Linked DNA regions of Homo sapiens. The protein of the gene in region 3 interacts with the protein of the main gene of each other region in a biochemical or structural test. Each region holds a gene or a part of one and is shown on either strand. Other genes may lie near its edges.

Region 1 (3,659 bases), on a different chromosome or scaffold from region 3:
TTACAGGTGTGAGCCACTGCGTCCAGCCTAGCCATCAAATTTGAAACCACAGAATCTACTGTTTGATCTGATAGTGTAATAACAATGAAGAGAGGCCTTAGGGCTGTATTTACCTGTGGCATATTTGATGACTATTAGAAATGGTAGCAATTTAGAAACATCTGGTACAAATTGTACATCTTAGTTTCTCTTTTACAGTGCCATGAATTGATGAAGAAATGGTCTATTAAAATGCCCAGTACCCAGCAGATTATTCTTACCACCAAAGATTGTATAATAAGAATTAGGTCTCCATTGTCATGAGAAAATTGTTTAATATAGAAGCATGATCCTGGCTTATTTGACCAAAACATTAAAAAATTCCCCTGTGATAGTTTTGATGATGAACGTCAAAATTTTGGTCATCTTCTCAGACATTAGAAAATACACATTGTATTTTTCAAAAGGTATAGAGTAGGCTCGAGGGCTTTATAAATATTACATTTTTAAGCTGAAAATATTTTAGATAGGAAAACATACATTTCTTTAAAATTAAAATTTTTTACCTTACTTGTGATGTAGGAACTTGCAGTCGCGCATGTTCTGAGTTGTGTTGCTTGAAATTAAAACAAAGTAAGAATGTTTACATGCAATTGTTAGCTTGAATGAAGCAGAATTAAGTAGTTACAGTTGAAAGGAACATTCCTATTTTGGCTGTATTTGAACAGCCCTGGTAAGTTCTATATATTCAGCTTTTAAGCCCTTAAAGTACAGTGCACTAACATACTACCACTCTAGCAAGAAGCCCAGAATTAATGGGACTATTCAACAAGTATTATTTATGAAAATTAGCTAGACTTGGAATTGATGGTGGTTCATTTTTCAGATGACTATTTTATGACAAAGGGTGATGTGTCTCCCTGGTGCATTTGAAATGGGAGCACAGAGTACAGATTGTCCTTTAGTAAAACAGGAATAGACATGAAGTCACTTGTATTGGCAGTAGCTGCAGGGTATTATGCCTGCTGCTCAAAAGTGGCACCAACAGCAGTAAACACATATTAGACTGGAAAATTCTTCTCTTTTTAGCTCGTGGCACAAAATCCTGATGGACTCCACGAAAGGTATGTGTAAGGCTTTGAAAAAGCTTTGTAAAATAGCATTAATTCCTGTTTAATAAAGTTGTATTTAAGCAGACATCTTTTAGGATTTATATCCGAACAGCAGAAAATTATTTCTATTTGAGAATAAAATCAGGGATTTATGAAAATTATAAGAGAACTAATTGATTAAGTAGTGTGTATTTTGCGTTTCACTGTGCTTAGCACAGTGGGAGATACAAAGTGGAAAACACAGTCCCTACCCAAAGCTCTGTAGGAGCACACAAGATCTGAGTACAAATAATTTGCTTTGGGATGAATCTATTTAGCTAATGTATTTTGTCATTTTTAAGGCAAAAGTCTTACAACTCTGTAACAATTTTTGGCTAGCCTTAAGGTTCTCTAAGCAAAATATCAAGACAACTGGTCAATTCAGTGATCAAACAAATCAACTAATTTTTTGGTAAAGTAAAAGTAATCCAATTAAAAATATCCAGGCTGGGCACAGTGGCTCACGCCTGTAATCCTAGCACTTTGGGAGGCCGAGGCAGGTGGATCATGAGGTCAGGAGATCGAGACCATCCTGGGTAACAAGGTGAAATCCTGTCTCTACTAAAAATACAAAAAAAAAAAAAAAAAAAAAGCCGGGTGTGGTGGCAGGTGCCTGTAGTCCCAGCTACTCGGGAGGCTGAGGCAGGAGAACGGCATGGACCCGGGAGGCGGAGCTTGCAGTGAGCCGAGATCGCGCCATTGTACTCCAGCCTGGGTGACAGAGCAAGACTCCGTCTCAAAAAAAAAAAAAAAAAAAAAAAAAAGATGAACCATCATCAGTATAATATTGCTTTGAGTAATTCCCCTAATAGTGATGAGTTTGTGTCTCATTTTTGCTATAATCTTCCATACCAAGTGCAGAGCCCAACATACAAGTAGGTTCTCCATGTAAATTAGTTGAATGAACGAATTCATGAACTGTTTAGTAGCCAAAAATAAATTTAAGTTCTCTTTTCAGTTTCTAGTTCTTGCTCTGGTAGACCCTCTTCCATCCTTTTTAGTAGGTGTAGTTGCATCAAACAGAACCAAAAAACTTAATTTCAAAGGCCAGGTGTGGTGGCTCATGCCTGTAATCCCAGCACTTTGGGAGGCTGAGGTAGGCAGATCACTTGAGCTCAGGAGTTTGAGACCAGCCTGGGTAACATGGTGAAATCACCGTCTCTGCTAAAAAATACAAAAACTAGCCAGCACGGTGTGCGCACCTATAGTCCCATCTATTTGGGAGTCTGAGGCACGAGAATCACTTGAACTTGGGAAGTAGATGTTGGAAAAAAAAAACTGAATTTCAGTTTTCTACATTTGGAAGCTAGGAATATTTGTGTTCCTGGTTTAATCTCTTTGGCTCCCAGTTTCTTGTGGACTTTTTGGAGGGAATGGAAGGTAACTATGAAGGAAGAAAGAGTGCTAACATTCAGTCTACCTGTCCAACTGAACATTTTTCTTTTTTCTTTTTTGTGTTTGAGATGGAGTCTCTCTCTCACCCAGGCTGGAGTGCAGTGGCATGATTTTGGCTCACTGCAACCTCCATCTCACGGGTTCAAGCGATTCTTCTGCCTCAGCCTCCTGAGTAGCTGGGACTACAGGCGCAGGCCACCACGCCCAGCTAATTTTTGTATTTTTAGTAGAGACTGGGTTTCACCATTTTGGCCAGCATCCCCTCGATCTCTTGACCTCGTGATCCACCCACCTCGGCCTCCCAAAGTGCTGGGATTACAGGCGTGAGCCACTGTGCCCAGCCACCAACTGTACATTTTTCTTTGGGGTTAAGTTTACTTGTTAAAATCAAGTTGAGGCCAGGCGTGGTGGCTCATGCCTATAATCCTAGCACTTTTGGAGGCCGAGGCGTTCCAGCCTGGCCAGCATGGTGAAACCCCATCTCTACTAAAAATACAAAAATTAGCTGGGCCTGATGGTGTGCGCCTGTAATCCCAGCTACTTGAGAGGCTGAGGCAGGAGAATCACTTGAACCTGGGAGGTGGAGTTTGCAGTGTGCTGAGATTGTGCCACTGCACTCCAGCCTGCCTGGGTGACAGAGCAAGACTGTCTCAAAAAAAAAAAAAAAAAAATCGATCAGGTGCAAACCTGTGGGATGTGCCACCATAAAGTTAAACCCTTCTTGGAAAGGATACATTTGTTAATCTTAGAACAATTACTCATGAGGGGTTTTTTTTGGTTTTCAGAAAGCATTTTTTGAAAACAGGAATATAACAAAAGGAATTGGATGTTTCATTAGTACCACAAGTATATTTTAAAACATTGAAATGTTAAACAGCTTATGAGAAAGGTTATAATTACTTTCATTTATAATCTTAATTTCTGTCCTATTGGAGGTTCACAACCCATATATTCCCTGTCCGTGTAGACACCATAGAGAGTCCTAGGTCTAACTGACCCATAAATGTCCTGATAAAAAATAATACCATTAGACTTCTTGTGTTTTGATTTTGTGACGTTGTGTATCCAGGTATTAGAACTACCAGAAAATGGGGTAAAATGTGGTAAAATTATGTATATATGTTTATCATGGCC
Region 2 (3,659 bases), on a different chromosome or scaffold from region 3:
ATGGATGCGTGGATTGATGAATGGATGAATGGATGAGTAAATGGATGGAAGGGTGGATGAGCGAATGGATGAATGGAGTGAATGGATGGATGGATGGATGATGGGTGGATGGATGGATAAGTGGATGGATGGATGGATGAGTGAATGGTCAGATGGGTGGATGAGTGGATGGATGGATGGATGGATGGATGGTTTGGATGGATGGATGGTTTCGGTGAATGGACGAGTGGATGGATGGGTGGATGGATGGATGGATGGGTGAATGGATGGATGGGTGGATGGCTGGATGGCTTGGGTGAATGGATGGATGGGTGGATGGATGGATGGATGGATAGATGGATGAATGAATGGATATATGAATGAGTGAATGGATAGATGGATGAGTGGATTGATAGATGGGTGAGTGAGTGGATGGATGGATAGGTGGATGGGTGAATGGATGGATGGGTGAATGGATGGATGAGTGGATTGATGGATGGATGAGTGAATGGATAGCTGGATGGATGAGTGGACTGATGGATGGATGAGTGGATGGATAGATGGCTTGGATGAATGGATGAGTGAATAGTTGGATGGGTGGATTGATGGATGGATGGATGAATGAATGGATATATGGATAAGTGAATGGATGGATGGATGAGTGGATTGATGGATGGGTGGGTGAGTGAACTCATGGATGGATGAGTGAATGAATGGATATATGGATGAGTGGATAGGTGGATGAGTGAATGGATGGATGAATGAGTGAGTGAGTGAATGGACAGATGGATGGATGGCTGATGCGTGAATGGTTGGTGGATGGATGAGTGGATTGATGGATGGATGAGTGAGTGGATGGGTGAATGGATGAGTAAATGGAGGGATGGGCGGAAGGATGGGTAGATATGTGGATGGATGGATGGATGGATGAGTGGATGGATGGATGCACCCACAGGTGGGTGAAGGAGGAATGAACGAATGAGTGGATGGACAAATGGATGGATGAATGCACACATGGGAGAGTGAAGGAGTGGAGGGATAAACATTGGCTTCCCATGTGTAAGCTTCATCCAAAACCATCTGGACACTGGGCCCAGGAAGAGGCTGTCTCAGCTCCTCGGCTGAATTATTTCCTTAAATTACTGCAGAGCCTCCAGTGAGCAGCACACCTACTTCTGGATGACAATGGCTTTAGAGGCGCCGCCTGCCAAGGAGTGGCAGACTTAACCTGCAAAGTGGGATCATTGACAAGCAATTGCAGCATCGGCTCAGAGCACTTTGGCAGATCTGGGCTCAGCATGGTGAGCACCATCTGCCCCACACAGAGCTCTCTCAGGAGTGGGTCATGTGCCCAGAGAGAAACCACGCTCACCTGGCCTAAAACATGCTCCACTGTCAGCTGAAATCTTAGCTATGCCTTAGCTATATGCCTTCTGGAATAAGACAGACAAACCCAGCCCCATCCTGATGTTGCCAGACCTCGGAAGATGCAGACACACCCTGGGCAGGCCCTGACTTGGTGCTGGAACTGCCCAACCTGGCACCCTCCTGGGACACAGAATAGAACTCGGGTCACAGGCAGCCAATACCCTTAGCATACCAACCACTTTTAGGAGCTTGAATGGTCTCATCCGTCTTATCGAGGTAGCCCAAAATGCTGGACTTTGCAGCAGCCAGCGCTCTGGGCAATGGAGGAGCTCTCTCCAGTTTAATATTCATTCAATAAACATTCAGTGCCCATCACGCCCTGTAGGCAGTGGGGATCCCACTTCAAATGAGACCCAAATATCCCATGGGGCAGCACTCCTGGGCACCAAGGACCAAAGACAGTCAGGAAGCCATCCCTGGGGCAGAGGGGGCAGCCAGCCCTGTGGGTTAGGGGGAAGCATGTCCAGGGAAGGGATAGCCAGAGCGAAGTGCCCGAGGCAAAAAGTGTGGATGAGGGTTAGGGGGAGAGTGTGTGTGTGTGTGAGGGGCAGGGGGAGTGTGTGTGTGTGAGGGGGCAGGGGGAGTGTGTGTGTGTGAGGGGCAGGGGGAGTGTGTGTGTGTGAGGGGCAGGGGGAGTGTGTGTGTGTGTGTGAGGGGCAGGGGGAGTGTGTGTGTGTGAGGGGCAGGGGGAGAGTGTGTGTGTGTGAGGGGCAGGGGGAGAGTGTGTGTGTGTGAGGGGCAGGGGGAGTGTGTGTGTGTGAGGGGCAGGGGGAGTGTGTGTGTGTGTGAGGGGCAGGGGGAGTGTGTGTGTGTGAGGGGCAGGGGGAGTGTGTGTGTGTGTGAGGGGCAGGGGGAGTGTGTGGGTGTGTGAGTGGCAGGGGTTGTGCATGGGTTTGTGAGTGGCAGGCGGTAATGTGTGGGTGTTTCAGGAGCAGCGGGATGTGTGTGTGTGTCTGAGGAGCAGGGGACCCTGTGGAGGATAAGCAGGAGCAGCAGGTGGTCCTTGCACTCTGGCCGTGTGATGACCATGTTCAGCTCTGGGTTGCTCCCTCACATTGGCGAGTGCCCTTACAAGCCTGAGCTCTGGGCTCCCTGTTCTATCCGACTGCCAGCCTTCCCTTGGGGCTGGCTGTGTGTCAAGTCCATTTCCAAAGTGTCGTGTCGTCAGTCTAGGAAGAATTGAGATGGAGCCTGGGGCCGTGTCCAGGTGGAGTCAGGAGAGCAGCCAGGGTGCCCAAGGGGTTCCCGTGTGTGCACCGTCCACAGGGGCCTGAAAGGAAGGAGGGAGGGGCGGGCAGAGCAGGAGGGGCTGTGGGAATTCCACAAATGGGGAGCGGCACATCCTGGGAATGGGCCTGGCCGTTTGTGCTGCTGTGCTGGGGGTGGTTAGGGCTGTGACAGAGACTCCAGGCTGATGGCATGGACTCTGGGGTGGGAGACCGAGAAATCTCCCCATGGACTCTGGGGTGAGGAGTGGGGGGCCGAGAAATCTCCCCATGTCTCCCCATGGAAGGCTCTGCCTTAGGGAAAGACCAGGTGACCTGTGCCAAGCTCCTGGTCCCTGGAGGGCGGCCTTTGAGTGCATCCCCGAGGGCTTTGTGCTGGACCATCCCAGCCGGGACCCCCTATCTGGCTCTGGGAGCCAGCCCTGGGGAGGGACAGAGCCAGGGTCCCCTTCTGGACTGTGCAGGGCTAGGGCAGAGGGAAGGAGCGGGAGCCAGGGACGCACTGGCAGCTTCCTCCTTTCTGGTGGATCGGGGAACCTGCAGGCTCACCGCCTGCTGAGCTGTCATGCCAAAGTCCAAGGGTTTGAGTTCTTTGTTGGGAAAGGGTTTCTTTAAGCCTGAATGGGAAAGTTGAAAATGCCTGTTTTTAAGAGCTTTGGGGGTGACACAAAGTGTGGAAGAACAGCAGCTACTGCGGGCTCCGTCCTCAGATTCAGCCCCAGATGTTTGGTGCAGAGGACACGGGGCTGACCAGACGGTGAAGGCAGATTCCCCTTAGAACCCGGCCCTCATGGGGCCCTCAGCGGGCCGTACCACTCCTTCCCCACCTACTGGATGTGGGAGCCACTGGGCAGGACTGCCTGAGGGGCCACAGTGAGCAAAGCCCCCGACAGGCAAGACCCGATGGGCCTCGGGGGGCAGGGTGGGCCCCAGGAAGGGGGAGCCAGCGGCCACTGGTCTTGGGTGACTCTGCAGAGGTGAGGAGGGAGGGCACAGGCCGGAGGCTGGGCCTCAGAGCCCCCTGAG
Region 3 (2,445 bases):
ATGCTAGAAATGTCTATCCGTTCTATAAGAGAGCATATCCTGCCGTTCTTGCATGCAGTGAAGCCCTGCCCGTCGAAAATCATTGCATCTGTGACTTTCAAAGTGGAAAAAAAAATGTTATTTTTTTGTTGATTTGTAAAGAGAGTTTAAATGTCATGTGAAAAAAAATAGAATGTAGTAAAATTCTATATATTTATGAAATATTTTAAAGGCATATTTTTTTAAATATCAAACGGGGCTATTCATAAAATAAACTGATTGTATGTCAAGATGTCCTAATTTAAAAGAGTAGTTTTATAAATCATGGTCAACATTCCATGTAAATATTTGAGCTTTACAAAGATAGATCCAAGTGTGCGATCTGTGCACTGCACATTTGATAGCATTATTCACTGGTTTTCCTTCATACTTGTCAAGTTCATATTAGAAGCAGAGACAAAAACCACTCCAATGGCCTTGACACATAGTCACACCAAAATAGATAATCAGACTAAGTATTATATAACAACGTGATCCAGACAGTGAGTTCTAAGTGTATTAATTAAATAGCAAAAAATTTTGTTTTTAAAAAATGAAAGAGGGAGGGTTGCCAACCTGAAGTCTTAAGTAGATTGTTTGGGTAGCATATTTCCTTCTTTGAACATTGTCTGAAATTTTCTATAAATCAAGACTTCTTGTACAAAGAATGATGGGACATATGTAATAATTCAGGCAATCACCTGAGTAATTTAGGCAGTCCAAATTCTTTACCCTGAAATACCCACATTTTAAAAAAATTGCAGATAATTGCTTCAGTTATTTACTTTGGGGACAGAGATATAGTGTAAAGTGGGAGAAACTGAGTCCTTTTTTGGTGGTGGTAATAATAAGATGTTATAAAAATATAACATTTTAAAAAAGAAAGGTCCAGACCTTAAGCGCAGAGCTAGAACAATATTTTTTAAATAATGGGGGGAAAAGGGGGCACTTTGGTAATTTTAGAAATCAGGTAGTATACTTTTTTTTTTTTTTTTGAGACAGGGTCTTGCCATGTTGCTCAGGCTGGTCTTGAACTCCTGGGCTCAAGCAATCCTCCTGCCTTGGCCTCCCAAAGTGCTGGGATTACAGGCATGATCCACCGTGCCCAGCCGGTAGACGTGGTCTTAAAAACAGTGTTTACATGGCCATCTTGATGCTTAGAAAGATAATTGATTAAAATTTAATAAGGCAGGGCCAACTCCGAGAGTTCATTGACAACGGCAGCAAAAAGGCCCTGAATTCTGTACTTTCTTCCCCCAGCCTCCTTCTCCAGCAAGGAGAATAGCACTCCTCCCTCCAGAAGCCAGCTCCCTAAGTTGGAGCCACTATGTAAGAGAAGAGGAACGTTCACTTTTTAAAATTCATATATTTAAAAATCAAGACCAAAAAGTAAATTCTGTACTCCTATTATTGACTGTAGTCAATCAAACATAAAAAGGTGAAAGTAAAATTTAATTTTTTACCCTTATTTTACTGACCAATATGGAAGTTCTTGGTATCTTTAAGGCTGACCTTCCTGGTATTGTGTAATGATTGAATGTATCTAAACTGTAATAATTTGAAACTGACAAACATAACCTTCTCAGACTTACAAAACTATGTTCTTTCTAAAGATACAGATTTTTATTATTTTATTTTGACTAGGAAGGATTTATAAATAAATGTAATGAAAAATCTTTGATCTTAATAAAGTACCTTCAAACAGTGTGTGTACTTACTTGAAAATTGTTTTTGCACTTGGATATTCTATTTTATTATACTACTATTGTGATCTATTCCATTATACTATTTCCCATGGTAGAACAAATTATATTTTCTACTGTGATATGAAGTGATGTAATTGAACTTGCCATGTCTAAAATTAAATTTCATATTTTTTTCAATCAAACACTGCTTTCATCGAGGCTGTTGGAGAGATGGAATTCACTAGTGTTGTTCTTACCCATACATTCCAGCAATTTAAAAATGTGGAGAACCTTAGTGGGAAGGAAGAATTAGGACCATCAATGATGGGAACACACCTCCCCCACTCCCCACCTCCTCTCCCTCCCTCCCACTAGGAATCAGTGTCACACATATCCTCTTCCTGAGCTCCAGTTAGGCGAAACTCAACTTTTTCAACTGTGCATATAGGAACAGATTGTCATCTGCTATGCAAACTAGCTAGCATTGGCCTTGCTTCAGTCCTCGAGCCAGTTAGCCCCAGCTGTGCATCCATAGAAAGGTTGCTCTGAAGAGCATTTAAAAGCATTTAAGAGCATGGGATCTGGAGTCAGAATTCTTCAGTTCACATTCTGATTTTGCCTGTTTCCAGCTCTGCAGCCTTGGGAAAAACACTGAACCTCTCTGTTTTTCATTTTCTCATCAGAAAAAAATAGGGACAAGAACAGTGATTACCTCATGGGATTGGTGTGGGCATGAAATGAA

The links.
Region 1: the proteins of MPP7 (region 3) and MYOT interact in a test that uses a peptide from one of them, tested with the Homo sapiens proteins (one large-scale study listed by IntAct).
Region 2: the proteins of MPP7 (region 3) and SLC9A3 interact in a test that uses a peptide from one of them, tested with the Homo sapiens proteins (one large-scale study listed by IntAct).

The regions. Positions count from the first base shown.
Region 1 is NC_000005.10:137,877,752-137,881,410, reverse strand, and holds part of MYOT (myotilin), read right to left. Parts: intron 1,104-3,659; exon of another isoform or gene 596-1,103; coding exon 546-595; exon of another isoform or gene 1-545. UniProt on the Homo sapiens protein: Component of a complex of multiple actin cross-linking proteins. Involved in the control of myofibril assembly and stability at the Z lines in muscle cells.
Region 2 is NC_000005.10:514,346-518,004, reverse strand, and holds part of SLC9A3 (sodium/hydrogen exchanger 3 isoform 1 precursor), read left to right. Parts: intron 1-3,659. UniProt on the Homo sapiens protein: Plasma membrane Na(+)/H(+) antiporter. Exchanges intracellular H(+) ions for extracellular Na(+) in 1:1 stoichiometry, playing a key role in salt and fluid absorption and pH homeostasis.
Region 3 is NC_000010.11:28,050,454-28,052,898, reverse strand, and holds the end of MPP7 (MAGUK p55 subfamily member 7), read left to right. Parts: 3' UTR 1-1,906; downstream 1,907-2,445. UniProt on the Homo sapiens protein: Acts as an important adapter that promotes epithelial cell polarity and tight junction formation via its interaction with DLG1. Involved in the assembly of protein complexes at sites of cell-cell contact.